Linked DNA regions of Homo sapiens: regions 2, 3, 4, 5 and 6 are each linked to region 1. The links come from fine-mapping of genetic effects on gene expression. A gene starts in region 1. Each other region holds a variant in brackets. All regions are shown on one strand. Distances are from middle to middle.

Region 1 (5,035 bases):
TGCTCTTTTTGTATAATTAGTTGTAAGCTTCTATAATTAATTTTTAATAATGGCTGTGTTTAACAAGTGGTTCATAAAATTCTAAAAATTTAACAGTTGGCACTCACAAACCTGTGGGAGCCAACCGCAGTGCACCACTGCCAGGCTCCTGTGACTTCTGGCTTCCACAGCGGGAAGTATTGGCAAGAGAAGGGAGGCTTGGATGAAGGAAGAACTGGGTTTTCCTCCTCTTGCTCCCTCCTGGGATCCATTCTGCTCCTCTTTTCCAGCGCTCTGGGCTTCTCCAGGCTCAGCCAACACCCTAAGGCGCTAACGGCTTCTTAGCTTCTTGCTCTTGCTGGTCCCTGGTGCTTCCTCATCCCATCCATCCCCATCCCATCAATCATTCCCTTCCCTCTGAGTTTGCCTCTGCTTCCTGGCCAGACCCTGCCTGCTCAAGTCTGCTCTTGTGGTCACAACTCTAATACTTCTAGTCACTTCACCCCTCCGAGCTTCAGTGTTGTGAGGATTCAGTATGAAGCAGCAGGATATTATCCTGAAAGAGTAGCTGGGGGTACTTCCCCCCTCCCACCTCCCGGCCCTGCTAGTTCCTGATCCCCTATAACTCTTTCCCTACCGGGGCAGCTGCATGCTGGAGCAGTCAATTCCTCAGGGACAGGATTTACAGCAGAAATGGGGGAAAGGGTTTTGAGTTTCAAAGTCCAAGACCCTGAAGGGCACTGGGCAAAGAAAGACTAATGAGTCACTGCAAAGTGTCCTGCTGGGACTCACTGGTCCCTGAGAAGGCTCTCCCACCCTGCAGGGCTGCCCCCTGCCCAGCCAGGGGATGTGGGACAGCAGAACCCGTTAGCGTGGGGAGTCAAAGAGCTGAGAACAAACAGCTGCAGCGGAGTCCAGGCAACTGTGAGAGCCGCCCCCCCGCACCCCAATGTCCCAGAGGGGCCCAGGACCGGCAGGGTCTCCACATAGGTTTGGGCGATGACACCACAGCAGCTCTGGTGTTTGACAAGCAAAGGCCAGGTGTCAGTGTGCACCTGGGGGAATGGGAGGATGGACAATGATGGGGTGATGGGGGTCCAAATCCCCCTGTCCCACACCAAGGTGAATGAACCCAAGCACTGAATAAACCCACTTTCCACCCCCACTTAGTTTTAGCAGAAAAGGACAGGGAATTATTCATTGAAAGATATTAATTTCTACCACCTACAGAATGGGATCTCCAACATAGGGTCTCTAGAAAAAGGAAGGGCCACTTTCTGCCTTGCTTGTGATTGGAGGCTCATGGCTGTGACAAGGAGAGCACTAGAAGCTTTGTCAGAGGCCCTGGACCAGCTTGCTGAGTAGTCCACCTTTCCATGCCATCTGTAAAATACACTAACTGCTGGCCCTGCCATGAGGAGCCCTCTGGCCAGTGGATGACCGTCCAGGTCTCGCCCTGGGCACTTGTGTTGCCACAAGTTCAAGGGCACCCCAACCAAGGGTCAGCTGGTTTGTCCCTGTGAGCCTTAATGACACTTATACTGAGAACTGTCATTCATAAATAACTGCCATGAAAACTAATGAAATGCAAGTGTACAAAAAAGAGCTGTGGTTTCCATGGCAATTAAACTGAATACTTTCTTAGGGAAATGCTGGAAAGAAACAGCTGTCACATTAGGGGTGTGTGTGTGAGATTTGTAAAAGTTCGGGGAGATGTTAGATGTCTAGAAAGTTCTGTACTTGGAGCACTTTATGGTCTCTAAGTTTTCACTCCAAATGAAAGAAATTCGTTTTGGAAAATGTAATGTACTATGAGGGTAGCTTGTATAAGAAGGGCAACTGGGACTCCTGTCAACTGACATCAAGAGAAGTATTTTGCACATTAAAATACTGGTAAATGGATATATATTTATGTTTTAAGTTAAAAAGATTATTTAGGCTGGGCACGGTAGCTCACGCCAGTAATCCCAGGACTTTGGGAGGCCGAGGTGGGCGGATCACCTGAGGTCGTGAGTTCGAGACCAGCCTGACCAACATGGAGAAACCCCGTCTCTACCAAAAATACAAAAAAAAAAAAAAAAAAAAAAAAAAAAAATTAGCCAGGCGTGGTGGCGCTGGCCTGTAATCCCGGTTACTCGGGAGGCTGAGGCAGGAGAATCGCTTGAACCCGGGAGGCGGAGGCTGTGGTGAGCCGAGATCGTGCCATTGCACTCCAGCCTGGGCAACAAGAGCGACACTCTGTCTCAAAAAAAAAAAAAAAAAAATTAATGCACATGTATGTGTAATGTATATATATGAGATGAGGCCTCTCTCTGTTGCCCAGGCTGGAGCGCAGTGCCACAATCAGGTTCACTGCAGCCCTGAACTCCTGGGTTCGAGTAATCCTCCCGCCTCAGCCTCCCAAGCAGCGCGTGTGACACCACCACGCCAGGCTCCATATATATATATATATATATATATTTTTTTTTTTTTTTTTTTTTTGGTAGAGACAGGGTCTCTCTATGTTGCTCAGGCTGGTCTCGAACTCCTGGGCTCAAGCGAGCCTCCCACCTCGGCTTCCCAAAATGCTGGGATTATAGGCCTGAGCCACCGCGCCCGGCCCATATCGTTTTTTTAAAAATAGAAAAGCCACCAATCTCCAGGGCCTCGGGTAAGAAGTCGCTCCAAAATCGCCAGCACCACAGCAACTCAATAGGCTTCTATTTCCATCCACCAAGGCCAGGACACTCGTATGCTCCCGGACGCCCTCTCCGGCGTCCCTTCGCTGAGCCCGGCCTGGCTAGCCCGCCACCCCGCCCGCTGTTACCCGACTGCCCGCACCGACCACCTGCGGCCGCCAAGGTGCGGCAGGGGGCGCTGTGCGGCCGCAGAGGCCGCGCCGGGCCGCGCTCTGATTGGCTGGAGGCCGCGGCCCTCGCCCAGGCCGCCCGCCCAGTCTGCCCGCCCCGTCCGCTAAGTGCCTGGGCTCTCCCGCTCGCGTCCCAGTCTGCGGGCCTCCGGGGCAGCGGCGAGGCCGGAGCGTCGCGGCGGAGAGGACGAGACCGGGACAAGACCAGGGCAGGAGGGAGCCGGCCAGCCGCGAGAACCCCGCACGCCCGGCAAGATGCTGTCCTGGCGGCTGCAGACGGGCCCCGAGAAGGCCGAGCTCCAGGAGCTCAACGCCCGGCTCTATGACTACGTGTGTCGGGTGCGGGAGCTGGAGCGCGAAAACCTACTCCTGGAGGAGGAGCTGCGCGGCCGGCGCGGGCGAGAGGGCCTGTGGGCCGAGGGGCAGGCCCGCTGCGCCGAGGAGGCGCGCAGCTTGCGGCAGCAGCTGGACGAGCTGAGCTGGGCCACTGCGCTGGCGGAGGGCGAGCGGGACGCTCTGCGGCGCGAGCTGCGGGAGCTGCAGCGCCTGGATGCGGAGGAGCGCGCCGCCCGCGGCCGCCTGGACGCCGAGCTGGGTGCGCAGCAGCGCGAGCTGCAGGAGGCGCTGGGCGCGCGCGCCGCCCTCGAGGCGCTGCTGGGCCGGCTGCAGGCCGAGCGCCGAGGCCTCGACGCGGCCCACGAACGCGACGTGAGGGAGCTGCGCGCGCGCGCCGCCAGCCTTACCATGCATTTCCGCGCCCGCGCCACCGGCCCCGCCGCGCCGCCGCCACGCCTGCGGGAGGTGCACGACAGCTACGCACTGCTGGTGGCCGAGTCGTGGCGGGAGACGGTGCAGCTGTACGAGGACGAGGTGCGCGAGCTGGAGGAGGCGCTGCGGCGCGGCCAGGAGAGCAGACTCCAGGCGGAGGAAGAGACGCGGCTGTGCGCGCAGGAGGCAGAGGCGCTGCGGCGCGAGGCGCTCGGGTTGGAGCAGCTGCGCGCGCGGCTGGAGGACGCGCTGCTGCGGATGCGCGAGGAGTACGGGATACAGGCCGAGGAGCGGCAGGTCCGTGCGCGGGGATGGCGCGCTGACCCCATACCCGCTGCCGTCGCCCCAGCACCCTGCCCTTGACGGCGTGGGGCAGCGGCCCCTTCACCAGGGGCGCGGCGTCGCGGACCGGTAGGGCCCGCCCAGAGGGTGCCCGAATGGCATGGGGACCCGGACTCGGTCCGCTGGTCCATCGACTCAGCGGGCGAGCGCGGGGCGGCAGGTCCTAGCGGATAGCCCCGTCCTCGTCATGGGGTTAGGTGGCAGCTGCTTTAACTCTTGACAAGCGTGACTGGGCGCATCCTGATAGGCCACCCTGTTAGCTCTAGGTTTTCCTTCCATTTTCCGTGCTCCGTAGACTCAGTAGACCCAGATCTAAGAGTCAACCGAGAAACCTCTCTCACTTGCAGAAGTGACGGCTTATGGTAGCCCCGCTGTCTATAGCGCTCCTCAGGGGAAAACTCAAATTAATTTCCAAAACGGTTTTTATTTTGCCAATATGATTTCCCAGTTGGAAGCCGCAGTTGTGGCTCTCTGGGCGGCTGCCTTGTTTGATCTTGGGAGGGGCAGCAACCCTCATGCAGAACAGAGCTTGATCGAAGATGTTTTGCTCACAGCACACGCTGACGTCAGATCTCTGCGTAGTGTAAAAGTTGTGGGAAAGTGGGGCCCTTTGGCAGGATGTTATTACAAGTGCAGAGTGATATAAACAGTTACTATTTCAGGGAAGCAAACCCTCTGACACCGGCGGGGTGACACCTGTGGCTGATGTAAACTATGCCCAGTCCAGCCCTAGCGTTTGGCCCTCGCCCTGCCCTGCCTCAGCCAGAATTGGAAATATTCCCAAATCACACTATCAGTAGTTCTCAAAAGGACAGATGGAAATAACATCTGCACAATTTCACAAATATTTTAAGAGTACAGTTTGCAGCTGTGAGTTAAAGATTTGAGACTGACTTTTAAAAATTAGAAGTGAGAGGAACATGGGGGTTGTCATATGGAATGACTGCGGTGATGTGACAGGTATCCACAGGTGATGAGTAAATACCTGTTGATTCTCCCTGGGTCCCCAGCACTGCCCTAGACTTTCAGTATGCAAAGAGCTACAGGCTAGATGGGAAATCATAGAATGCAATATGGTACTACATTGGGATTTAATCT
Region 2 (5,035 bases), 88 kb after region 1:
GCTGAAGTGGGTGGATTGCTTGAGCCCAAGAGTTTGAAACCAGCCTGGGTAACATGGCAAAACCCCGTCTCTACAAAAAAAATATACAAAAATTAGCTGGGTGTGGCAGTGCACGCCTATAGTCCCAGTTACTTAAAGGGCTGAAGCAGGAGGATTGCTTGACCTGGGAGGGCGAGGCTGCAGTGAGCTGTGTTTGCGCCGCTACACTCCAGCCTGGGTGACAAAGCAAGACCTGTCTAAAAAAAGAAAGAAAGAAAGAAAGAAAGAAAATTCCTGGCTTTGATAGCTGTATTGTGGTTACATAAGAAAATATCCTTGTTTTTTTTTTTTGTTTGTTTTTGTTTTTTTTTTTAGATGGAGTCTTGCTCTGTCACCCAGGCTGGAGTGCAGTGATGTGATCTTGGCTCACTGCAACCTCCACCTCCTGGGTTCAAGCGATTCTCCTGCCTCAGCCTCCCAAGTAGCTGGAATTACAGGCGTGCATCACCATGCCTAGCTAATTTCCTTGTTCTTATAAAACATACACTGAAGTATTCAGGGATAAAAAGACATGATATATTGAACATATCTTCAAATGATTAAAAAATATAAACAATTATCTCTGAGTATATGTGGCTGTATATATATGTGTGTATGTTTGTATGTATGTCTATATAGATAGAGAAAACCAATGTGGCAAAATACGTTACAATGGTGGTGAATCAGGGTGCCACAAATGAAAGGCACTACATAACTCACTTCCCATTCCCAAAGTGCTAAGGACTCCTGAGAGTGACAAGACCTACATGCTGCATGCATATTTGAATTCCTTTGCTGATTCCTACTTTTAGACATTTATATGTCTTTTTATTTTTTTTTGAGACAGGGTGAAGTGCAGTGGCGTCCAGGTTGGAGTGCAGTGATGCTATCTTGGCTCACTCTAGCCTCGGCCTCCCAGGCACAAGCAATCCTCCCACCTCAGCCACCCGAGTAGCTGAGACTACAGGTGTGCATCATCACGTGTGGCTAATTTTTGTATTTTTTTTTGTAGAGACAAGGTTTTGCCATGTTGCCCAGGCTGGTCTTGAACTTCTGAGCTCAAGCGATCTGCCTGCCTTGGCCTTCCAAAGTGCTGAGATTACAGGCATGAGCTACCGTGCCTAGTCTACATTTCTTTCTCTAAGCTCAACTGGGACCTGGGGACACTAGTATCTCACAGACTCATTAGATCTACTCTTGATTCATAATCCAAATTGGCATATTTAATGCACTATAAAGCCATAAGTAAATGCGTTTGATTTCAACTTAATACCTTTCAATTTTATTTAACCACAAACACTTTTTTCTAGGAAGACCTATGAACTCTCATGATATGCTAGTACTCTGTGGAACACAGTGTGGGGAATGCTTCTCTAAACCAAACTCAGATCTTTGAATGCATACTGTTGGTGTTGGCTCTTGGAGGCCATCTTTCAGTTCAGTGAATTTTGTCAGGAGAAATGGTCCTTGCTAGATGACTATGTGCATATTATCACTTACATGGTTTGGCTCTGTGTCTTTCCCTGCTGTTCTCGTAATAGTGAATAAGTCTCACAAGACTTGATGGTATCATAAGGAGGAGTTTCCCTGCCCAATCTCTCTTTTTGCCTGCTGCCATCCATGTAAGACATGACTTGCTCCTCCTTGCCTTCTACCATGATTGTGAGGCTTCCCCAGCCACGTGGAACTGTCAGTCCAATTAAAACTCTTTCTTCTGTAAATTGCCCAGTCTCAGGTATGTCTTCATCAGCAGCATGAAAACAGACTAATACAGCAAAACAGCAGAGAGGGGTGCTGCTGAAAAGATACCCAAAAATGTGGAAGTGACTTTGGAACTGGGTAACAGGCAGAGGTTGGAACAGTTTGGAGGGCTCAGAAGACAGGAAAATGTGGGAAAGTTTGGAACTTCCTAGATACTTGTTGAATGGCTTTGACCAAAAGCCTGATAGTGATATGGACAATACAGTCCAGGCTGAGGTGGTCTCAGATGGAGATGAGGAACTTGTTGGGAATTGGAGCAAAGGTGATTCTTGTTACGTTTTAGCAAAGAGACTGGCAGCATTTTGCCCCTGTCCTAGAGATTTGTGGAACTTTGAACTTGAGAGAGATGATTTAGGGTATCTGGTGGAAGAAATTTCTAAGCAGCAAAGCATTCAAGATGTGACTTGGGTGCTATTAAAGGCATTCAGTTTCAAAAGGCAAAGACAGCAAAAATGTTTGGAAAATTTGCAGCCTGACAATGCAATAGAAAAGAAAATCCCATTTTCTGAGGAGAAATTCAAGCCAGCTGCAGGTAATGAGGAGTGAATTTTCATCACCAAGACAATGGGGAAAATGTCTCCAGGGCATGTCAGAGACCTTTGC[A/G]CAGTCCCTCCCATCACAGGCCTGGAGGCTTAGGAGGAAAAAGTGGTTTCACGGGCTGGGCCCAGGGTCCCCATGCTGTGTGCAGCCTAGGAACTTGATGCCCTGTGTCCCAGCTGCTCCAGCCTTGGCTGAAAGGGGCCATCATAGAGCTTGGGCTGTGGCTTCAGAGGGTGCAAGCCTGAAGACTTGGCAGCTTCCTCATGGTGTTGAGCCTGTGAATGCACAGAAATCATGAATTGAAGTTTGGGAACCTCTGCCTAGATTTCACAAGATGTATGGAAATGCCTGGATGCCCAAGCAGAAGTTTACTGTAGGGGTGGGGTCCTCATGAAGAACTTCTGCTAGGGCAGTACAGAAGGGAAATGTGGGGTGGGAGCCACCACACAGGGTCCCTACTGGGACACTGCCTAGTGGAGCTGTGAGAAGAGGGCCACCGTCCTCCAGACCCCAGAATAGTAGATCCATTGACAGTTTGCACCGTGTGCCTGGAAAAGCTGCAGACACTCATCGTCAATGTGTGAAGGCAGCTGGGAGGGAGGCTGTACCCTGCAAAGCCACAGGGGCGGAGCTGCCCAAGACTATGGGAACCTACTTCTTGCATCAGCATGACCTGGATGTGAGACATGGAGTCACAGGAGATCATTTTGGAGCCTTAAGATTTGACTGCCCTGTTGGATTTCAGACTTGCATAGGGTTTGTAGCCCCTTTGTTTTGGCCAATTTCTCCCATTTGGAATGGCTGCACTTACCTAATACCTGTACCCACTTTGTATCTAGAAACCACTTGCTTTTTGACTTTACAGGCTCATAGGCAGACAGGACTTGCCTTGTCTCTGATAAGACTTTGGACCGTGGACTTCTGAGTTAATGCTGAAATGAGGTGAGACTTTGGAGGACTGTTGGGAAGGCATGATTGGTTTTGAAATGTGAAGATATTAGATTTTGGAGAGGCCGGGGGCAGAATGATATGGTTTGGCTCTGTGACCCCACCCAAATCTCATCTTGTAGTTCCCATAATTCCCACATGTTGTGGGAGGGATCTGGTGGGAGATAACTGAATCATGGGGGTAGGTCTTTCCCATGCTGTTCTTGTGATAGTGAGTAAGTCTCATGAGATCTAACAGGATCATAAGGGGGAGTTTCCCTGACCAATCTGTTTGCCTGCTGCCATCCACATATGACATGACTTGCTCCTCCTTGCCTTCTGCCATGATTGTGAGACTTCCCCAGCCATATGGAACTGTCAGTCCAATTAAACCTCTTTCTTTTGTAAGTTGCCCAGTCTTGGGTATGTCTTTATCAGCAGCGTGACAATGGACTAATACAATCACTGATGTCTTTCCATGAACTTAAGAAACTGGTAGCGAGACCTTTTTTTTTGAACTTTTGAAAGTTTTAAAGTTTGTACTGGGCACGGTGGCTCACACCTATAATCCCAGAACTTTGGGAGGCTAAGGCAGTCATATCACTTGAGGTCAAGAGTTCAAGACCAGCCTGGCTAACATAGTGAAACCCCATCTCTACTCAAAGATACAAAAATTAGTTGGATGTGGTTGTGGGTGCCTGTAATCCCAGCTACTCGGGAGGCTGATGCAGGAGAATTACTTGAACCTGGGAGGTGGAGGTTGCAGTGAGCTGAGATTGTGCCACTGCACTCCAGCCTGGGTGGCAAGAGCAAGACTCTATCTCAAAAAAAAAAAAAAGTTTTAATGTTTGAAACTTTTACTAAAGTTTTGAACTTTAGGAACTCATAGCTGAGACGTTGAGGATAGATCTGGATTTAGTCATGAAAAATTTAGAGAACAACTTTTAGAAATTGGATAGGAAGACTCAATGTTGTCAAGATGTGAATTCTTCCCAACTTGATATCCAGATTCAATGTAATCCTAATAAAAATCTCAGGAAGTTATTTTGTGGATATTGACAAACTGATTCTAAAGTTTGTATGGAGAGGCAAAAGATCCAGAATAGCCAATGAAATATGGAAGGAAAAGAACAAAATTGGAGGACTGATACTACCCAACTTGAAGACTTACAATAAAGCTACAGTAATTAAGACAGTGTGGCAGTGGCAAAAGAAGAGACAAAGAGATCATGGAACAGAATAGAGAGCCCAGAAATAGGCCCACATAAATACAGTCCACTGATCTTTGGCAAAGGAGCAAAGGCAATACAATGAAGAAAAGACAGTTTTTTCAACAAACCGTGCTGGAAAAATTGGACATCACGTGCAAAAAAAAAAAAAAAAAAAAAAAGATTTCAGACACAGACCTTATACCCTTCACAAAAATTGACTAAAAATGTGTTATAGACCTAAATGTAAAATAAAAACTAGCTGAGCGCAGTGGCTCACACCTATAATCCCAGCACTTTGGGAGGCACAGGTAGGCAGATCACCTGAGGTCGGGAGGTCAAGACCAGCCTGACCAACATGGAGAAACCCCGTCTCTACTAAAAATACAAAATGAGCCGGGCATGGTGGCACATGCCTGTAATCCCAGCTACTAGGGAGGCTAAGGCAGGACAATTGCTTGAATCTGGGAGGCAGAGGTTGGTGAGACGAGATTGTACCATTGCACTCTGGCCTGGGCAACAAGAGCAAAACTCCATCTCAAAACCAAAACAAAACAAAACAACACTGCAAAACTATAAAA
Region 3 (5,035 bases), 110 kb after region 1:
TCAAAAAAAAAAAAAAAAAAAAAAGGGGGGGACATAAATCCAATGAGCGCTGCCTGAGAAATTATCTTGGCCTTCCACTTCCAAGACCTGGCAAAAGAAAAGGCCCTCATGGTTCAAGCTTACCTACAGAAGTGCATAAATCCAAAACACCTTGTTAATTTCTAAAGCAGATAAATTTGGACAAAATACATTTCAATAAGGAAATGAAGCAAAGTAATTGAATGAAAATTATACAGTTTAAACATGCACATTGTGGTGATTATATCAGGGTGAAGAATTAGGATGAAAAGAAGTAGCAAAGTTTGAAACAACTTGGCTAAACACAAAAGTAACTTTGTAGAATAGTCTGGAATATTAACTTAAATTCTTGTTGGCTATTCAGCCTAGATGTGTACAGGGCCCGCCATCTGCTGGCAAGGCTTGGTGTTGCTAATTTGGAAAGCACTCAGAGGAGGTGCCAGAGGATCATTTACTCTTTTTTATAGCAACACTGCTCAATGTTAAATACTGATATATTAGGTCTCAACAGATGCAACAAATATTATATCTTGGAGCTCTGAATTGTGTATTTCCTATCTTATAAGACAGAATACCTAATTTCTGGCAGGAAGGGATTCTGGACTGGTAAAGCCTTCCCAGTCACTAACAACCTTCTTCCTCCTCCAGTTATATAAATGGAATTGTACAGTATGATTCTTTTGCATCTGGCTTCTTTCACTACACATTGTGAGAGCCATTCATGCTGTTAAGCATAGGAGTAGTTTTAATCATTTTATTTATATTAACATCACATTTTTTCTGTTTTACTTTTGGTGAACATTTAGGCTGTTTCCAACTCTTGGCTATTACAAATAATGTAGCTTTGAATATTCTTGGCTATGTCTTTTGGTGAAAACATGCATGCATTTCTATTGGGTGTATAATTTAGTAGTGATACTGCTGGGTCAAAAGGTATGCAAATGTTTAAATTTAGGAGACAATGCCAAATAGTTTTCTAAAGTAGTTACACCAAATATATTTGAAACAATGGTATATGAGAGAGCATATCAGAGAATCACATCCTTCCAAATGTTTGCTATTAGTAGTCTTAAAATTTTTTTAGCCATTCTAGTGGGAATGTAAGAGTATCTTATTTATTTATTTATTTAAAGAGACAGAGTTTTGCTTTGTCATCCAGGCTGGAGTGCAGTGGTGTTGCACAGCTCACTGCAAACTCAAATTCCTGGGCTCAAGAGATCCTCCCGGCCGGGTGCGGTGGCTCACGCCTGTAATCCCAGCACTTTGGGAGGCCGAGGTGGGCACATCACAAGGTCAAGAGATCGAGACCATCCTGGCTAACACGGTGAAACACCGTCTCTACTAAAAAATACAAAAAATTAGCCAGGCGTGGTGGTGGGTGCCTGTAGTCCCCACTACTCGGGAGCTGAGGCAGGAGAATGGCGTGAACCCGGGAAGGTAGAACTTGCAGTGAGCCGAGATCGCGCCATTGCACTCCAGCCTGGGTGACAGAGTGAGACTGCATCTCAAAAAAAAAAAAAAAAAAAGAGATCCTCCCACCTCAGTCTCCTGAGTAGCTAGGACTATAGGTGAGCACCACCACACTTGGATAAATTAAAAAATATTTTTGTAGAGATGGGGGTCTCCCCATCTTGCCTAGGCTGGTCTTGAGCTCCAGGGCTCAAGCTATTCTTCCACCTCAGCCTCTCAAAGCGCTGGGATTACAGGTGTGAGCCACCACACCCAGCCATATCTTATGATTCTAGTTTTCATTTTCTGATAACTGATAAGGTGGAACACCTTTTGATAGGTTTATTTGCTATGCGGGTGTTCTTTTTTTGGGAAAAGTTTCCTGCCCATCTTTCTTTTCTCCTTTTTTTTTTTTTTTTTTTTGAGATGGAGTTTCTCTCTTGTTGCCCAGGCTGGAGTGCAATGGCGCGATCTTGGCTCACAGCAACCTCTGCCTCTCGGGTTCAAGCAATTCTCCTGCCTCAGCCTCCCGAGTAGCTGGGATTACAGGTGCCCACCATCAGGCCCAGCTAATTTTTGTATTTTTAGTAGAGACAGGGTCTCGCCATGTTAGCTAGGCTGGTCTTGAACTTCTGACCTTGGGTGATCCACCCGCCTCGGCCTCCCAAAGTGCTGGGATTACAGGCATGAGCCACCGTGCCTGACCTCCTGCCCATCTTTCTATCCAGTTATGTGTTTGTTTAACTGATATATAAGGGTTCTTTGTAGACTTCAGATATAAGCCCTTTGTCAGTTGTACGTATTACAAATATTGTCTGTAGTATAAGATACATGTGATTTAAATACAGGACAACACAGCACCAAGCAGAGAGGATAAAGAGTGCTGGCACGCTCAAAGGTCCTTGCATTGTTCAGGAAGTGGTTAAATGATTAATTTACAATTAGATTCTAATAAATCAGGGATATAAGTGACAAACTCCACAGTAACTACTAGAATAAAAAGAAGATAACAAGGCCAGGCATGGTGGCTCATGC[C/T]TGTAATCCCAGCATTTTGGGAGGCCAAGGTGGGTGGACTGCTTGAGCCCAGGAGTTCAAGACCAGGCTGGGCAACATAGCGAAATTTCATCTCTACAAAAAATACAAAAAGTTAGCTGGGTGTGGTGGCACACACCTGTAGTCCAAGCTACTCAGGAGGCTGAGATGAGAGGATTGCTTGAGCCCAGGGAGGTTGAAGCTGCTGTGAACCATGACCCCACCACTGTACTCCAGTCTGGGCAACAGAGTGAGATCCTGTATACAAAAAAGAAAAGAAGAAAGAAAATAAAAAACAAAAGAAAAAAATGTATAACTTGCAAATTAATGGGTATAAAATGGAATGATAGAAATATTTGATTAATCTAAAAGAAAGCAAGTAAGGAAAAAGAAAAGAACAAAAAGTTGGCAGGAGAAAAGGAAATTTAAACCCAAATAAATATTTTTTAAAAGGTATTGTAGGAAAATATTTACCAAAAGAGAGCTAGGATATAGTATCAGACAGAATAGATGTAGGGGACAAAAAAGGACAAGGTCAACTAACCAATAAAGTGATAGGTTAAGAAGATATGAGGCTGCTAAACTCTCCTCTCACCCCAACAAAATAGCTTCAGGATATATATAACAATGCAATACAATTACAAATCAGTAACACCAAGATATCTTGAAAACTCTCATACCTGCAAACCAAAACACACATCATTTGAATAATCCTTGGACTAAAGAGTAATTTATAAACTGAGTTATGAAATACTAAGAAGTTATCACAGTGATAATGCTTCATGATAAAATATATGGAGTAGAGTTAAAGTAGGTCTTGGAGGGAAATTTTAGAGAATATTTTTGATATTTAGCTGGAAAAGACTTTCTAACCAGACTCCCAAAGCATAAATCATAAGGTGAAAATGAATGGATTTGAGTGAACCAAATTAATAATTTCTAAGCCACGAAGAACACCATAGACAAAATTAATAAGCGGGCAATAGATGTAAGAAAATATTTATATCATTAATATTTATAATATATAAGAAAACCCTGATTATCAATAGGAAAGGTACAGGAAACTCTAAAAGAAAAATAAGAAGGAATACTAACAGGCTATTCATACAAGGTGAATCCCAAGTGGCTAAGTCGTATATGAAAAGTATTCAAACTCACTAATAGGAGAAATGTAAATAGAACTTTAATAATTAGATAGCACGTTATATGCACCAGGTTGGCAAAGATTAACAAAGTCAAATATTGCCAGTGGTGTGTTAGGAACCTACCCACCCTGCAAGTAGGAATGCAAATGCAGATGGGTGTCGTGGTTGGCTGGTGCTTGGTGAACTTAAAGTCTGTTTGTACTCAGTACCACCCCTGGAATATAAACCTCAGAAAAGCAATACCACCCTTGGGATATAAACCTCAGAAAAAGTGTCACTTAGCCACGTAAGTGAAGCTGTGTAAGGATGGTCATGGCAGCACTGCTATGGCAGCAGAGAGCTGGGGACAAGCTGAATGTCTATTGTTAGGAGGATGGACAAACAAAATACAACAAATGCATTCTATAGAGCATTATACAGGAACCAGAAGCAATGAACTAAAATCCAGGCAACAACCAAAACGTGCTGAGTGGAAAAAATAAGAAGCAGAATGATACATACGCTACAAATTTATACAAATTTTCTTTTTTTCTCTTCTTTTTTTTTTTGAGACAGAGTCTCACTCTGTCACCCAGGCTGGAGTGCAGTGGTGTGGTCTCTACTCACTGCAACCTCTGCCTCCTGGGTTCAAGCGATTTCTCCTGCCTCAGCCTCCTGAGTAGCTGGGATTATAGGCATGCGCCACCACGCCTGGCTAATTTTTGTATTTTTAAGTAGAGATGGGGTTTCACCATGTTTGTCAGGCTGGTCTTGAACTCCTGACCTCATGATCCACCTGCCTCAGCCTCCCAAAGTGCTGGGATTACAGGCATGAGCCACTGTGCCCGGCCAAATTTATACAAATTTTAAACACATAAATATATAAAACAATATTGTTTGTTATTCAGAGATACATACTCAAAAACGTAAGCCATCATTAAAGTATTTATCTATGATGTGTGTGTAGGAGAATGAGAGAAAAGATCGGAGATGAAGGGAAAAATTAATTTAAAAATCCATACCAGAGGATTTGCACAGATGAGTGAGCTCTGCACTTGCAGTTCAAAAACCACCCAAGAAAAACAAAAGAACAAAGGGAATTGTGATCACAAAAGAAGATCTTTAACTGCATGAGTCAAAGTTGGTTCTTCCCACTTTCCATTCACATGGAAGCATTAGGTGTGTTCTCCTGGGGCCCTTTCCTAGCACCTTTCTTAAAATGATTCCGTGGGTTCTCTGAGTCGTCTTGGCAATCAACCTACACATACAATCTAGTTAGGAAGGTAAACTGAATTCTTCCGGCTTTGGCTAAGGGCAGCCATGTAGGTCAACTGGGATACTCTGCCTCTTCCAACACAGACCTTTCTCCACCTTTTCCTCTGCACAAGTCCATCTTTCCAAAGAGTGTGGAC
Region 4 (5,035 bases), 32 kb after region 1:
CAATGAAGAGAATGCCGATACTCAGACTGCAGCTGGACCGGCAAGCTGGCTGTGTACAGGAAAATTGGAAGCACACAGTGGACTGTGCCTCTTAAAGATGCCTTTCCCAACCCTCCATTCATGGGATGCAGGTCTTTCTGAGCTCAAGGGTGAAAGATGAATACAATAACAACCATGAACCCACCTCACGGAAGCTTTTTTTGCACTTTGAACAGAAGTCATTGCAGTTGGGGTGTTTTGTCCAGGGAAACAGTTTATTAAATAGAAGGATGTTTTGGGGAAGGAACTGGATATCTCTCCTGCAGCCCAGCACCGAGATACCCAGGACGGGCCTGGGGGGCGAGAAAGGCCCCCATGCTCATGGGCCGCGGAGTGTGGACCTGTAGATAGGCACCACCGAGTTTAAGATACTGGGATGAGCATGCTTCATTGGATTCATTTTATTTTACACGTCAGTATTGTTTTAAAGTTTCTGTCTGTAAAGTGTAGCATCATATATAAAAAGAGTTTCGCTAGCAGCGCATTTTTTTTAGTTCAGGCTAGCTTCTTTCACATAATGCTGTCTCAGCTGTATTTCCAGTAACACAGCATCATCGCACTGACTGTGGCGCACTGGGGAATAACAGTCTGAGCTAGCACCACCCTCAGCCAGGCTACAACGACAGCACTGGAGGGTCTTCCCTCTCAGATTCACCTGGAGGCCCTCAGACCCCCAGGGTGCACGTCTCCCCAGGTCCTGGGAGTGGCTACCGCAGGTAGTTTCTGGAGAGCACGTTTTCTTCATTGATAAGTGGAGGAGAAATGCAGCACAGCTTTCAAGATACTATTTTAAAAACACCATGAATCAGATAGGGAAAGAAAGTTGATTGGAATAGCAAGTTTAAACCTTTGTTGTCCATCTGCCAAATGAACTAGTGATTGTCAGACTGGTATGGAGGTGACTGCTTTGTAAGGTTTTGTCGTTTCTAATACAGACAGAGATGTGCTGATTTTGTTTTAGCTGTAACAGGTAATGGTTTTTGGATAGATGATTGACTGGTGAGAATTTGGTCAAGGTGACAGCCTCCTGTCTGATGACAGGACAGACTGGTGGTGAGGAGTCTAAGTGGGCTCAGTTTGATGTCAGTGTCTGGGCTCATGACTTGTAAATGGAAGCTGATGTGAACAGGTAATTAATATTATGACCCACTTCTATTTACTTTGGGAAATATCTTGGATCTTAATTATCATCTGCAAGTTTCAAGAAGTATTCTGCCAAAAGTATTTACAAGTATGGACTCATGAGCTATTGTTGGTTGCTAAATGTGAATCACGCGGGAGTGAGTGTGCCCTTCACACTGTGACATTGTGACATTGTGACAAGCTCCATGTCCTTTAAAATCAGTCACTCTGCACACAAGAGAAATCAACTTCGTGGTTGGATGGGGCCGGAACACAACCAGTCTTTTTGTATTTATTGTTACTGAGACAAAACAGTACTCACTGAGTGTTTTTCAGTTTCCTACTGGTGGTTTTGATATTGTTTGTTTAAGATGTATATTTAGAATGACATCATCTAAGAAGCTGATTTTGCTAAACTCCTGTTCCCTACAATGGGAAATGTCACAAGAATGTGCAAAAATAAAAATCTGAGGAAAAAACCCACATTGTTCCTAAAGAGAATGAATATTTTCAGTAGATTTTGATGTTTCCTTTAAACTCTAAGTAAAGAATCTGTGTGTTTACATGCATGTTTTTAGGGTAGCAGAGAATTACTGGGCAGAATATATATGAAAAGTTCCAGTTCTCTAATTCCTCACCTGAATCGGAACTCAATATTGGGAGCACAGAGCTAGAAAGCCTGGCAGACAGAGCATAAGCCAATTGGCTTGTAATCAAATATACACTGGACAATTTGTGGTAAAAATGTCATCATCACAGCCTGAATGACTAGTGGCAGTAGGACACCACCAACCATCCCATTTGGGATGGAGAGGTTTCTTGGGATGTGGTACTTTGAGTGCTAAAACCAGGACTGTCCTGGGCATACCAGGACAGTTGGTTACCTTATAAGTGCAAATTGGAGGGTTAACCCTAAGGCATGGCCATTTCTTAGGGGCTTGAAAAAACTGAGGTAGTTTGAGACAAAGGAATAGCTAGATATCTTTACCCGTTTGTAACCTTGTAGCCCTTTACCAAAAATAGAAAAACACAAGTAGCTATAGTCTTCCTCTCGTTGAAGTCAACAGAATTAACAGATGGGAGACATTGGAGGGAACATTCCTAAATTCATTGCTTCCTGGGGTGGGGTGGGGTGGGGGCGCTAAATTTTAAAAATGTGTTTTAGTTTTTGTGATTCCAAGCTACGCTTCAAGAAGTACAGAAAGGAAGAAGTAACATCAGAATTCACATTTATTTCAAAAACTCGGCATGGACTCTCAGTTCAGGCTGCTGTAACAGAAAGCCGTAGCCTGAAAGGCTTAAACAACAAACATTTATTTCTTACAGTTCTGGAAGCTGGGAAGTCTCAAGGTGCCAACAGTTTCATTTCCTGGTGAGGGCTCTCTTCCGGGCCTGCAGACGGCTGTCTTCTCACTGTGTCCTCACATGGTGGAGAGAGAGATCATCTCTCTGGTGTCTCTCCTTATAAAGCACTAATCCCATTCATCAGGGCTCCACCCTCATAACCTAATCACCTCTCCAAGACCCCACCCCCAATACCATCCCTTTGGGGATTAGGGCTTCAACGTGAATTGGGAGCATATGAACATTCACCCCTTAGCTGACTCCACCCATGTCAACTAGATAGGACACACGGTGAGTAGTGACATCTTACACGTTTTTAGCACACTGCTGATGTCCGACAGGCCTGGGTCTGGGACCAGTGTGTACCAGCAAGCATGGTCTGTGGGGTCAGCTGTCACGCTCCTGAGGAAGACAATGGTC[C/A]CTGCTTCTCTCCACCCTGTCGTGGCTCTACTGAGTTTATTTTCCCCATCAATACTGGAGGTGGTGCCCTGCACAAATGGCCCCAGGGTGGTTTTGATGTCCCACTGGGGGCTGGAGGGGAGGGCCCTGTGCTGCAATCTGCTGTCATAGCACCAGCCTGCAGCCTCATGGCCACAGTCTGTGGGACCAGGGGAGGGAGGGGAAGGGACATCACTGCCCACACCTGCACCCCTACCCCTGGGTGTTCCATCCACCTCGATCTGGCACTGGATCTCCTCGTTGACATCGTGGAGGAAGGCACTCAAAGCTTCCTGTTCGACTTTGCCATCCTCACACGACTATGGCCTCCTTCCAGGGGGCTGAAGACTGCTGTGTACACGATAGTGTGCCAACTCAGGAAGCAGCTCCAGGTGGCATCCAGGTTTGTCCTGCCTGCAGTGGAGGCCACAGGAGGGATGCGAAGCAGCAGGGAGTCTGCGGTCTTCCCCCCGCAGCCTCCGGCTAGCCTTTCTTTTCACTCCCTTACACCTGCCTCCTGGGCCCCAGGCCAAGTCAGGTGTGTCGGCCTCCTGCCCCTCCTACTGGGCTCTTTCTCAAACCCCTTTTCAGGCTCCGAAGAACTCTGAGGCAGGCTGCACTTTGAAAACACATGCTGACAGCAGCGTGTTCAGGTTTCCCTTTATTAGCGTTTTCTTCTCATGTTATTCTCAATCCCTATTAGCCTCCTATAAGAAAGGACTTCCTGAAGTTCACTGTCCAGATCTAACTCCACACCTATGCAAGGAGCTGTGTGTACAAGCAGATGCCGGGCTGACTCCTGCACAGGGCGCACTGAACTGTTGAAGAGAAGTTTTTCAGCCACAGTAGTGCTGATGGGTAAAAATTCTTGTTGGCAAGAAAAACCACTTAGGTGATAGAAAACTGCTTTATAGCATATATCACCCTGAAGGGCATCCACTGTCAAAATGTGGCCCACGGGAGGCTTATGGTCTCACTGTTGCATGTTGGGGCCAACAGTTGGCCTTGGAAATCTGTATCCTGACTGTTGAATTCCATTTTCTAGGCGGAGGTGATTTGTACAGCACCCTAAATGACAGTGCCCAGGAATGTCCTAGGCTTTTTCAGGGTGGGGGCCTCAGTCTGCTGTTGTGCCGGGCCGGGCCTTCCCCAGCAGGGTGTCCTGAGGGATGCTGGTGCAGAAGGCCACTTTGGCTTTTGATGCCTGCCTTGGCTTCGAAGCAACCTTGGGGGCCCTGCAGACAAGCAGAGGGTGGGGTGAGTGTGGTGCCCCTCAGCCCCCCACACCGTTCCCATCCAGCCTTTGCTGCCCAGCAGGTGCCCAGACCCATTTATGAGAAGACTTGGTAGGGGCTATAAATGAGAGGAGAATTGTAGCACAGAGCATAAAACATGAGATGTTTTCCTCCCATCTTTTATTTTTTTAATTTTTTTTTTTTCAGACAGAGTCTCACTCTGTCACCCAGGCTGGAGTGCAGTGGCCCCATCTCGGCTCCCTGCAACTTCCGCCTCCCAGGTTCAAGCAACTCTCATGCCTCAGTCTCCCGAGTAGCCAGGATTACAGGCACATGCCACCACGCCCAGCTAATTTTTGTATTTTTAGTAGAGACGAAGTTTTGCCATGTTGGCCAGTCTGGTCTCAAACTCCTGGCCTCAAGTGATCCACCGCCTCGGCCTCCCAAGGTGCTGGGATTATAGGCATGAGTCACCTCGCCTGGCCCCTCCCATCTTTTAAAATCACCTGTGACCATCCTCACTGAGCTGAGGCCCTCAACCCTTAGCTGGCTTGGTGAGCAGGACATGGGTGAGGAGGATGGTCAGGGTTGCACTGGAGGCCTCCCTGGCTCGCCTTCCCTGCCCTCAAAGGGGATGGCGCCCTGCTGGCCAGGTTGTGTCTGCTCCGGGCTGTGGCCCTGTTTCCCTGAGCAGACTCAGGCAGCCCTGGGGCTGCTCTCTGCGGACCAGGCTCTGTGAGGTAGGCCCTCCACGGCAGAGCGCTGGGCCTCTGCTCGGGCTGAGAAAGGACGTAGGGGCCAGCCTTTAAGGTCAGTCAGTGAACCTTCCGGCTCCAGTCCTGACGGGCATCCGAGGG
Region 5 (5,035 bases), 21 kb after region 1:
CGGGCCCGCATCTGGGGTGACCCAGGCAGTGCGTCCACTCTGTGTGGAGCTTGGCTTCCTCTGTCGCAGTGAGGAGTCGAGGGAGGCGGCTCTGCGGCTCCTTCTCCAGCTCCGGAGCCTCCCTTTCTTCTCTGCACTTCTCCACCTGCTGTTTGCTAGGAAGCACCCCGTGAATCACCCACAGGCCCCGGCCCCGGCCCCAGCAGGCTCCCGCACAGACACGGCTTCTGGGAACATCCTGACAGTGCCTCATTTATGGGGCTGCACAGAGCAGTGGCCTTGTGCCCACGGTGCTGAGTCACGGCGGATTGTTCAGCAATTCCATTAGGATAATCTATCCCAGACAGAGAGCCTTGCCTTGGAGCCTGCTCAGGACGCCGGGTGGCCCATTAGGGCCTGGCGCCTGGCCAGAGGCCACATGACAGCCGGCTTCTGCACTGTGGGTTTGTCCTGGGCTCCTTAATGAGGCCAGGGACTTGAGTTTTCTTGCACTTTTGCTTATTTTCCTGCATAAGGGGCCACCAACCTGTGGAGCTGTGTGAAATGCCCACAATAGCCCATGACTCAGGGGATTGGCATTTCTCACAGTCCCCGAGGCTTGGGGGCAGATTTCCTCCACCGCTCTCAAAATAACCAGGTTTGATTGCAGCCTCAGAGAACATGCTACCCATTTCTTAAAGTGGTACGAACCTATTCCTTAAAAATGTCCCTTGCAGAGCTTTAGAGGAAGTCGTGGTTTCTGGCTTCTCCTCAGAGTCTTGTTGATGCTTTCGCCGTGTAGTCCTGGGGCTGTGCGGAAGGAGGGTGGCTGCCATTGGGCTGGATGTGCTACCCAAAGCATGAACTCAATGGCCAGTGCCCAGCCGGGTGCTCACAGATAGTAAAGGTGACATGTGTCGCTGCCTGCTAGGATCCGGCCATTGAGAAGGGACACAGATGAGGGATAGCTCCTTCTCCAGCAGGAGCTTCTTACTTATAGGAGAGCTCTGCAGGGCCATTTTGGATGAAATCACCAAGAGAATTTATTTTCATTAATATGGCCCGGAGGGTCTATCTGTAGGATTTGTGCTTTCTGAAATTTGTGTGCAATACCATGGTCTCTGGCCTCACTGGGAGGCCTAGTGGTATCGCAGGGGAGGGGGCTGAGAGCTCAGGCTGCCTGGGTTTGCATTTTTCTCTTTACTGGTGAGCCGTATGCCCTTGACCAAGACGCTGTCTCTGCACCCCAGTCTTCTCACCTCTAGAGCGAGGATGCAGCCACAGGCCCTGTGTTGGGGGTGGCTTCGACGGTGTAAGTACATGAGTGACCACAATGCCTGGTGCTCAGTGTCAGCCAGGGATGGTAAAGGCCTAGAAAGGGGAAGCTGTGGGGCTGTATCTTGTCCCCTGAACCCAGCCAGAAGCCCCACGCAGGGCTGGTGCCTGTTTCGTGTGGGTCCTGAACTCTATGAAGGTTTGGTGATGCTTTGGAATTCTGGAAGAGGAGCAGATGCATTCCCTTTGGAGGGTGGGGAAGACGTATTTTTCCCTGGACAGCAACATACCTTCCGTTCTAACTTGGGCAGCTCAAGGGAGAGGCCCCGTGGTACCCGAGGTTCACAGCTGAGCCAGGCCGGGAGGATCTGAACTAGAACCTAGTCTTTCTCCCCACGCCCTGCCCTGGCTCCTCAGCTGCAGGACGCCACCCCTTCTGCTGCCGTCATCCTGGGGTGCAGAGCCTTGGGGCCTGGCTTTTACCCCGAATGTTCCTCTGATTATATAGACCTCAGAACTTTCTCAGCAGTGAAAGCTGTTTGCGTTCCTGGAACCTACAATGCTTGGTCATGAGGGCGTGGGATTAATGGGTTGGTGTCCTGTTTCCTGGCCTCTGCCCTGAGCGAAGGGCTGGGGCTCTGGACTCGGGCCTCTGCACATGCCCCGTCCACACACAAGCATCCCGCAGTCACTGCGCCGGGGCAGGCCCGCTGTGTGCGCCTTCGCGAGAGTGCCTCATGCCTCCTTTGCTTTCTTCCAGCTGCTCACAGGGCTCTCGTGTTCATGGGGCTCACCATGTTTCAACAGATGGAAATACAACTCAGTGCAGTTTGTCCAAGCTGCCAAGTCCCTGCTCGGGTGTGGGCACCCTGCTCCGTTTTTGTGCCCAGCTCTCAGCCATAAGATTGGCATTTCTCAGTGGGCTCTTGTTCTGGATGCCTTTTGCCGTGTGCAGTGTATTTCTTGGAACCGGAGTTAGTGACTTCACATGTTGCTCTAGCAACTGAGAAACTGTTGCACCCAGAGCTGCCAGCAGCCCAAGGGGTCTTCGCGAGTGACTGGCTGACAGGCATCCCGGTGCTAAGCCCCTCGCCAGCAGGCTGGGTCTGCTGGGACCACTCTCCTCAGCTCTGGGATCTGAAGCAGTAGACGTGAACAACCTAATGAAACTTCTATAATTTTAGAACTTTGGCGCAGACATAGTCAAAGAAATCACCTTGTTGGGTACTTCTCACCATTTTATTAAAGGAGATAACAGGATGCCAATTTGGATGAAGTGAGGCCCCTGGGGGTGGCATGGGGAGGGGCTACTGACGGGGGGCGCTTTAGCACTACCTTTTC[C/T]GTCTGCCTGCCTTCTACTTCTTTTTGTCGTCTCCAAGGTGACCCCCTGGAATGCAGTTTGAAACCACAGATGCAGTCTGGCTGCCTTATAAGTGTCAGTCCCTGCCGTCTCCTGGTCAGCCCTCTGCAAGCTGCCCCCACCAGCTGTGACTCCAGGAAGAACCCAGTGGGGGGTGTAGCTGCTCTGGGGCCCTCTAGCCTGGGGCCCACATCTCTCCAGTGCCCCCTTGCTCCTGCTCCTCTTCACCCTGGACTGAGAAAGCTTTCTAGAAGGGCTTGGCTCGCCAGTACTGCCGAAGCCCTGGCCTGGTCATTTTGTTCACTGGGCTAGTAGGGGTTGAGCGCCATGCTGGCTGCCAGGGATGTGGCGGTGAGCAGAGCAGGTGGCCTGGCCCAGGTCTGCTGAGGCTGGTGGGTGGGCTTGCCAGCCCTATGGTGCAGCCCTGCCCAAGTCTCCTCTTCAGGTAGAAGTCCTAAAACAGGTGACACTATGGTCATTGGCCGCATACCACGATACGTTTTATTAGAGGCACTTCTTACTCTTTCGTTTCCTAATGAATTATGTTTGTAAATTATTTTTACAGGGCCTTATTGGAAGGAGAAAGTAATCCAGAGATAGTGATCTGGGCTGAGCACGTTGAAAACATGCCGTCAGGTAAGTAAAAGCTAATGACTTGACTTAGCTTTAGGCATCTGAACTGTTTATTCTGTGGCTAGATAGTAAAGCACCATCATCGGGAAGAACGGGTTAGATATGGTGTTTAGATAACAGGAGTTCATCTCTCATTTAAGTACCAAATAGATTTTAGTTTAGTGTGACATAATTTCAATTATGTGAATGAGAATGTTTGGGAAGGTGCTTGATAAACTTGGTCCCTCTCTCGACAGGATGCAGGAGCGGAAGGGGCTAATGGCACTGGGCAGTGTGAGGGCGAGCAGGAGTGCACCTGAACTTGTGTTTCACACCCCTGGAAGGGACACTCCTTCCATTTCCAGACCAAGGGGTTATGGTTGTTACACCTGTAGAGGGAGGTATGGCCTTGGATGGCAGGCAGGCAGCACTCTGGAACCTGCTACCCTAACAGGAAGAGAGATGGGAATAGTTACATTGTTTACACCACCCTAGGTTGTTGTGAGCAGCTCAGGAAAATGTGTCCTGGTGCCTTGAAGACTACCTTATTGAGGCCAAGAGCCTCAGGACAGGGCCCATCCTTCCTATGGCTGCAGAACTGACATAAGATCATTAATGTTCATTAGAAAGATCCTAAGAAACTGAGGGATAACTTGTTTTTTAACCTTTTAAAGCCCTATAGAATCTTGAAGAGCTCTGGCTAAGCAAGTGTCGATTAAATTACGTATAGAATGTTGAGTTCACACCTTAGGCAGCAGCATGGTTTTAGTCTTCATTGTTTCTTTTAGGCAACTCATGGATTTGACATGTCACTGGGTTGAGAAGAATATTTGGGTTCTAGTCATCTATAACTGGAAGGGATCTGGTCTTAGACAACATGCAGCAAATTTTCTTTCTAATTTTGAGAGTAAGTTTGAAAAAAGCAAAGGTGTTCATGGAAGGGTAGGCATTGGTCAACCTGCCTGGCATCAGTTAACGTGTGACATCTATAAAACAAGAATTAACTCCCCAGATTTCAAGGTTTACTTAGTTACCTACATTTTTAACCTGTGGATACCTAAGTTTGGACATCCATCATGTAACCTAGAGAGAGGGGAGAAGGAAGAAAAGGGCCCAGGAGCTCCGAGGAAGACCAACAGTCTAAGCCAGGGCCTTGCTCAAATTTTCCCAGTTGTGATTTTGGGGCCGAGGGAGAGCACACAGAGGGGCTAACAGCTGTTGCTGTTAACTTGCTTCATTCATTCATTCATTCATTCATTCATTCATTATTTTTCAAGCTTCTTGAAGGAAATAGAGACTTAATATTTGTAAACTAAATTTATTCTGGCAATTACATATTATGCCAAAAGCTTTAGAATAAAAATTACTAGTTGGGAATTTTTATTAGACGTTGAGCTTCTAGATAGTTCTGTTCTGTTGAGTAAATATACAGATAAGTTCCTAAGTAGTGAACTTATCAATACTTGTTAGTGTGCTTGTGTTTCTTTTATAATATTGCATAAAATAATGTTGGCCGCTTGCCCGCTAGCCGGTGGACCTAAACCCAGTCTGTAATCTTCCATGTTTCTTGTTGAATCTTAACTGTAAATGAGATGGTCCCTGCACTATTGCCTGGGGGTTCATCTTCTGGGACTTCTCAGTTGGATCAGTAGGATCAGTTGACCTGAAAAGAGGAGTCTTGTAGAAAATGTCCTGGCCTGGTCTCTTTCCTGTATCTTGGGATCTGTGCAAAGGAGGCCTCTGGCCTTGGCTCCATAAGGGAGAGAGAAAGCCCTGTCCCCGCTGAGCCAGCTGGGGTGTGGGTAGACA
Region 6 (5,035 bases), 77 kb after region 1:
CTGACTTCCTATCTACCCTTACTCTTGTCATCATTTCCCAAGATTTCAGTATGCATGAGATTGGCCTGTACTCAATCAGGCAGGAAAGAGATGGCACATGTAAACAGGTTAATGGAGGAAAAGAGGTCAATAAAATGATCCCTGGCATGGAGGAAACCCAAGATGAGCACGCTGGCTCCCAAGACAAGGTGCTGGGGGCATTTGCTATAACCAGAAAGAAGAATTGTAGGGAAATGAGCGGTGGGTTTCAGTAGAGACACGGCCTACCTGCAGGGACCTTGAGGGGAGGGGCTGGAGGAATGGATGCTCTGTCTCCATGTCTTCCCTGGTCCAGGCTGTGTATCTCTCAGTCTGAGGGAAAGGGCACTGAGATGGTAATTAAAGGTCAGCCTCTGGGGCACAGAGCAGGGCTGAGAAGGATGCACAGTGTAGCTGAAGGACCACACGGAAATGTCCAGCCAACGACCTAGCCAACACCTTGGCCTCTCAGGTTTCTGACAAACTTACTTTCCTCCTTACTCTCAGGTGCCCAGTCCCTGGGTCACACTCCAGACCTCATCATCGCCCACTCTGTGTTACCACTGGATCCTCCAACTCACAGACCCATTTTGGCTCTTGGGGGGCCCTAGATCTATTGCCTCCATGCACATCTACTCCACCGCCCCCTGACATTCTCACTAGTCATCCAACCCTCCTGCTGTCCTTCCCTTCTTGTCCAGCTTAATGGGCACCGCCCATTGCCTGTGTTGAAAATGCCCTCCACTGATGCATTAATTGAGATGGTAAAAAATGGGGAACCACCTAAATATCTATCAGCAGGGGAATGAACATATTGTGGTTTATTCTACAAGTTCTTGATTGAACTCCATCTACATATGTTAACATGGTTGTATTTCAAAAACATACCACTGAGTGAACGAAGCAACTTGTAAAAGGATGCAAACACCATGGCACCATTGATTTTCAAGTTTCTTTTCTGGAGCAGAAGAACCCAAACAAAACCTTCTGTGGTTCTCAATATACACAGCAGGAAAGAGCAGAACAGCCGCTCTCACAGAAGCAGGTGGAGGGGCCTGGAAGTCTGACTACCTGCTCCCAGCTAGCTGCCCCAGAAGAACCTCCATGGAACATGAGGGCTCAGGGTGACACAGATTGAGAACCACAGCACATGCTGGGCAGTGAGGCTTCCTTAGGGAGTGAGTGCAAAGGACGTTGACAATGCTAGTGTTTAGACTACACTGTCTTTCCAAACTCAACCATTGTTCACAATTTTCAAACAATGCTTCATTTGCTGAGGGAATATAAATACCCTGTTACATGCATCTGAGAGCATTTAAGGACTAGGAATCACAGTTAACAGAATTACAGGCATCCTGCTTGCCTCTCCTGGATTTCTGCAAGAGATCAAGTAATGGGCCTCGCTGGGGCTCCATAGTTTGACCACACTCACTCCTTCTCCTCAGGATTTATTAATCTCCCCAGGGCTTGCATTTCCCCTCATGTCTTTTGTTCTTTTCAGTATCTTATGGTTACATTTATCAACTGTCATCTTGAAGCTGAGGAGGAATGTTTAATATCTCCAAATCCCTTGGGGTGCTGGCATGTTGGACTGGGTTAAAAACAAAAAAAAACTTCTAATATTCCACATTGAACAAGGTCATTAATTAAAAAAAAAAAAAACAAAACTCATCCACAAGACCAAGGACCTCAACCCCTGCCAAGGCACAGAGCAGCTGTTCCATCCTGGTGCCTTGTATGTATGTCTGGGGGAAACCACAGATTCCTCAGTGCCAATCAAGCTGTCGACAGACACAGCCAGAGCTGGCAGGCTTTTATCTAACTGGGCCTGTCCCCTTGGATTGGTAAAATGTGTAATATTTCCTAAAGAGAAAGCCTGATGACTAGTGAAAAGGATGAGAGACACTTCTATTTCTGCAGGCAGACCCCATCATCTGAACACTCAACTTCAAACCCTGGAAGGAGTCTGAGTGTGGAATCCCAGCTCTTGGGGATGGGGTGGGTCTTGGGGGTTAGGGAAATATATTTTCCCCCCACTTTGTAATAATTTGGGGTTCAGTGACAGAGCAAAATCTCTCCTACAGCAAAGTAGAGATTAAGTACACAAGAAGATCAAGGTACATTTGTGGACTTAGCCTGAATGTATTTACTCTGGAGATGAGAACACTCAGCGAGGAGACAATAGAAGTCTTCAACTTAGTCACAGCCAGGATCTCTTTGTACAGCTGAGGGTGAGCACTGGAGGGACACAGGGAAGGAGGGAACTAACATCGATTAAGCACCTTCTTCTGCCAGGTGTGGTACTAAATGAATTTTACCACTTACCAGTTCACTCAGTCTCAAAATGACCATTGAAAGTGATGTGAACAGCCCAATTTACAGAAGGGGAAATTAAGCCTCCAGGAGATGAGGTTGAAGGTCACATGGTGCGTCAGCAGCAGAACAGAGACTCAGACTAAGGCCTGTCATTCCAAACTGCATACTTTTCCAGTCTAACACTTGGTTATTGAGAGGGTAGAAGTTACAGAAAGATGATTTTCTAATCAATGTAATGAAGAGATATTTAAGGGTCAGAGAAAGAGGCTGTCAAAGAGTAGACTCTGTCCAGAAATGGACTGGGCTGCCTAGAGGGAAGAGTGAGATGCTAACATGTGGATGCCTGAGCAGCTAGCTTCTAAACACTTTAGAGGGATGCCATAAAGGAGAGAAAAGCGGCAGATGGTGGATAGAGAAGATGTTATGGTGTCGTCGACCGAGAGTCTACGACTCTGCTTTGTTTCAAGTTTGTGCCTTAATTCAAAAGAAGTTCAAGTCCACTTGTCATTGGAGGTGTGAGCTTGCTGTTTCTTTTATAACTGACCAGCTGTGAAGCTGCATAGCTTGCCTTTTCACCCTGCCAAAACTGGTCATTTCACCCTTCAAATCTGAGCTAACACCCTTACGTAAGACAGGGTCACGTTGCAGCCCCGGGTTGCCATTTCCTTCCCTCTCCCATCTCTGCCCAGCAGGGAAGGCTTTCATGGCCACACAC[C/A]CCTTGGAGGCCTGGGGCAGCTGGTGAACCTTGGCTAAGAAAAAGACGGAGCTGGGAATCCCTGGGGGATTAGATGAACAGGAAGTCACTGGGAGCAGAGAGCATTGGAAAACTGAGTTCTGAGGGCCCTGGACTAAGCCAGTTTCTTTTAATAGTCAGAGAAAGTCCTCAGTGGCAGCTCTCCAGTTGTCAATTTTAGCTCCTCCAAAGAGCTGGGGAGAAAAAGCACTACTCTGTATAAGCATTAGCAACAAAATAGATACCTCAAGGGCTTATATTTTCTTCGTTTGGTTGCAAGTATGTGTTTTCTTAAAACTTAATTAGATTTTTAAATGATAAGAGTATTACCTGCATAGAATCTTAAAAAATCTTAAGTGGTGGAAAAGAATAAACAATTGAAATTAAAAATACTCCTTCCCCCTTCTACCTGCCTTAACCTCTTTTTCTCCCCATTCCCAGGCTTACAGCTAATCAGTTTCCTGTATTGTTCCAGAAATCTCTCTCTCTCTCTCTCTCTCTCTCACACACACACACACACACACACACACACACACACACACACATAATCATAACCCAGCCACGTGCCGCTCTTAGCTTCATCTCCTATGACCCATACTGGGCTCCAGCCACAATGGCCAGACAGCTAAATTGCATTTCTTTAATTACGAGTGAGGCTGAGGATTATTTTTGTATGGTTATTGGTTATTTATGTTTCCTCTTCTGTAAATTGTATGTTCCTGTCTTGTGCATGTTTCTACTGAGTTGTCTTTTTTATCCAGATTTTTAAAGAACTCTTTCTATATTTTCTCCTCTTTGACATTTATGTTTTGACTTTATGATATATTATCACAGAGTAGTTTTTCATTTTTACTCTGTCAAATTTATCACTTTCTTCCTTTCTCTTTTTTTTCTCTTCTGTCTCCTAATGTATACTCATCTGTATATATGCAGAGAAAAATTGTTCAGCAAGTGTCAACACTGGCTATTTCTGGGCAAGGAGGTCTGAGGTGACTGGTGGCATATATTTGACCTTTCCTATATAGCTTGATTTTTAAAAAACAAAGAACATGTATCATTTTTTAAAAAAAGTAGTTATTACTTAAAAAAAAAAACCAGTAATCTTCCCCTTTGTGGCACTTGGATTGATGTCATTCTTAGAAAATTTTTATAGTGAAACAATATGAAACAAAAAGTGAAATAGTATGAAAATGGACTAATGCAGTAAATTGGTACCAGCAGAATGGGGCATTGCTATAAGATACCAGAGAATGTGGAAGTGACTTTGGAACTGGGTAATGGGCAGAGGTTGGAAAAGTTTGGAGAACTCAGAAGACAGGAAGATGTGGGCAAGTTTGGAACTTCCTAAAGACTTGTGGAATGGCTTTGGCCAAAATGCTGATAGTGATAAGGACAATGAAGTCCACGCTGAGGTGGTCTCAGATGGAGATGAGGAATTTGCTGGGAACTGGAGTAAAGGTCATTCTTGCTATGCTTTAGCAAAGAGACTGGTGGCTTTTTGGCCCTACCCTAGATCTGTGGAACTCTGAACTTGAGAGAGAAGATTTAGGGCATCTGGTGGAAGAAATTTCTTTCTTTTCTTTTTTTTTTTTTTGAGACAGAGTCTCGCTCTGTCACCCAGGCTGGAGTGCAGTGGTGCGATCTCGACTCACTGCAACCTCCGCCTCCTGGGTTCAAGCGATTCTCCTGCCTCAGCCTCCCGAGTAGCTGGGACTACAGGCACGTGCCACCACGCCCAGCTGATTTTTTGTATTTTTTTTTTTTTTTTTTTTTTTTAGTAGATAACGGGTTTCACTGCGTTAGCCAGATGGTCTCAATCTCCTGACCTTGTGATCCACCTGCCTCGGCCTCCCAAAGTGCTGGGATTACAAGCATGAGCCATCGCTCCTGGCCTGGTGGAAGAAATTTCTAAGCAGCCGAGCATTCAAGAAGTGACAGAGCATAAAAGTTTGGAAAATTTGTAGCCTG

Direction of the effects. Positions count from the first base shown, and alleles are read on the strand shown. Sizes are in standard deviations (SD) of each study's normalised expression. Not every link is listed here.
In carriers of allele G in region 2, the expression in skeletal muscle of the gene that starts at base 2,963 in region 1 tends to be higher than with A alone (small effect, 0.16 SD a copy in GTEx).
For the expression in tibial nerve of the gene that starts at base 2,963 in region 1, T is the low allele of the variant in region 3 and C is the other (moderate effect, 0.54 SD a copy in GTEx).
For the expression in visceral fat of the gene that starts at base 2,963 in region 1, A is the low allele of the variant in region 6 and C is the other (moderate effect, 0.48 SD a copy in GTEx).

The links. PIP is the estimated chance that this variant, and not a neighbour inherited with it, causes the effect.
Region 2: its variant is fine-mapped to the expression of SYNM in skeletal muscle (GTEx, PIP 0.98).
Region 3: its variant is fine-mapped to the expression of SYNM in tibial nerve (GTEx, PIP above 0.99).
Region 4: its variant is fine-mapped to the expression of SYNM in whole blood (INTERVAL, PIP 0.98).
Region 5: its variant is fine-mapped to the expression of SYNM in liver (GTEx, PIP 0.99).
Region 6: its variant is fine-mapped to the expression of SYNM in visceral fat (GTEx, PIP 0.97).

The regions. Positions count from the first base shown.
Region 1 is chr15:99,102,118-99,107,152 of GRCh38, forward strand. It overlaps SYNM (synemin), which reads left to right and starts at 2,963. Exons shown (of 4, transcript NM_145728.3): 1 at 2,963-3,892. The coding sequence starts at 3,083. It overlaps SYNM-AS1 (SYNM antisense RNA 1), which reads right to left and starts at 3,760. Exons shown (of 3, transcript NR_187219.1): 1 at 3,571-3,760. RefSeq lists silencers at 2,713-3,622, 3,903-4,072.
Region 2 is chr15:99,189,940-99,194,974 of GRCh38, forward strand. All of the region lies in intron 9 of TTC23 (tetratricopeptide repeat domain 23), which reads right to left. Among named protein-coding and RNA genes, the nearest start is that of TTC23-AS1, 53 kb to the left of the region's middle. The variant A/G (reference allele first, on the strand shown) is at 2,383.
Region 3 is chr15:99,212,983-99,218,017 of GRCh38, forward strand. The region is part of intron 8 of TTC23 (tetratricopeptide repeat domain 23); the gene reads right to left. Among named protein-coding and RNA genes, the nearest start is that of TTC23, 34 kb to the right of the region's middle. RefSeq lists enhancers at 1,288-1,788, 4,932-5,035. The variant C/T (reference allele first, on the strand shown) is at 2,503.
Region 4 is chr15:99,133,950-99,138,984 of GRCh38, forward strand. SYNM (synemin) reads left to right here. Exons shown (of 4, transcript NM_145728.3): 4 at 1-1,644. TTC23 (tetratricopeptide repeat domain 23) reads right to left here. Exons shown (of 14, transcript NM_001288615.3): 14 at 2,374-4,178. The coding sequence ends at 4,061. Among named protein-coding and RNA genes, the nearest start is that of TTC23-AS1, 2.8 kb to the right of the region's middle. RefSeq lists an enhancer at 2,815-3,316. The variant C/A (reference allele first, on the strand shown) is at 2,926.
Region 5 is chr15:99,123,543-99,128,577 of GRCh38, forward strand. SYNM (synemin) reads left to right here. Exons shown (of 4, transcript NM_145728.3): 3 at 3,180-3,250. Among named protein-coding and RNA genes, the nearest start is that of TTC23-AS1, 13 kb to the right of the region's middle. The variant C/T (reference allele first, on the strand shown) is at 2,596.
Region 6 is chr15:99,178,679-99,183,713 of GRCh38, forward strand. The region is part of intron 9 of TTC23 (tetratricopeptide repeat domain 23); the gene reads right to left. Among named protein-coding and RNA genes, the nearest start is that of TTC23-AS1, 42 kb to the left of the region's middle. The variant C/A (reference allele first, on the strand shown) is at 3,050.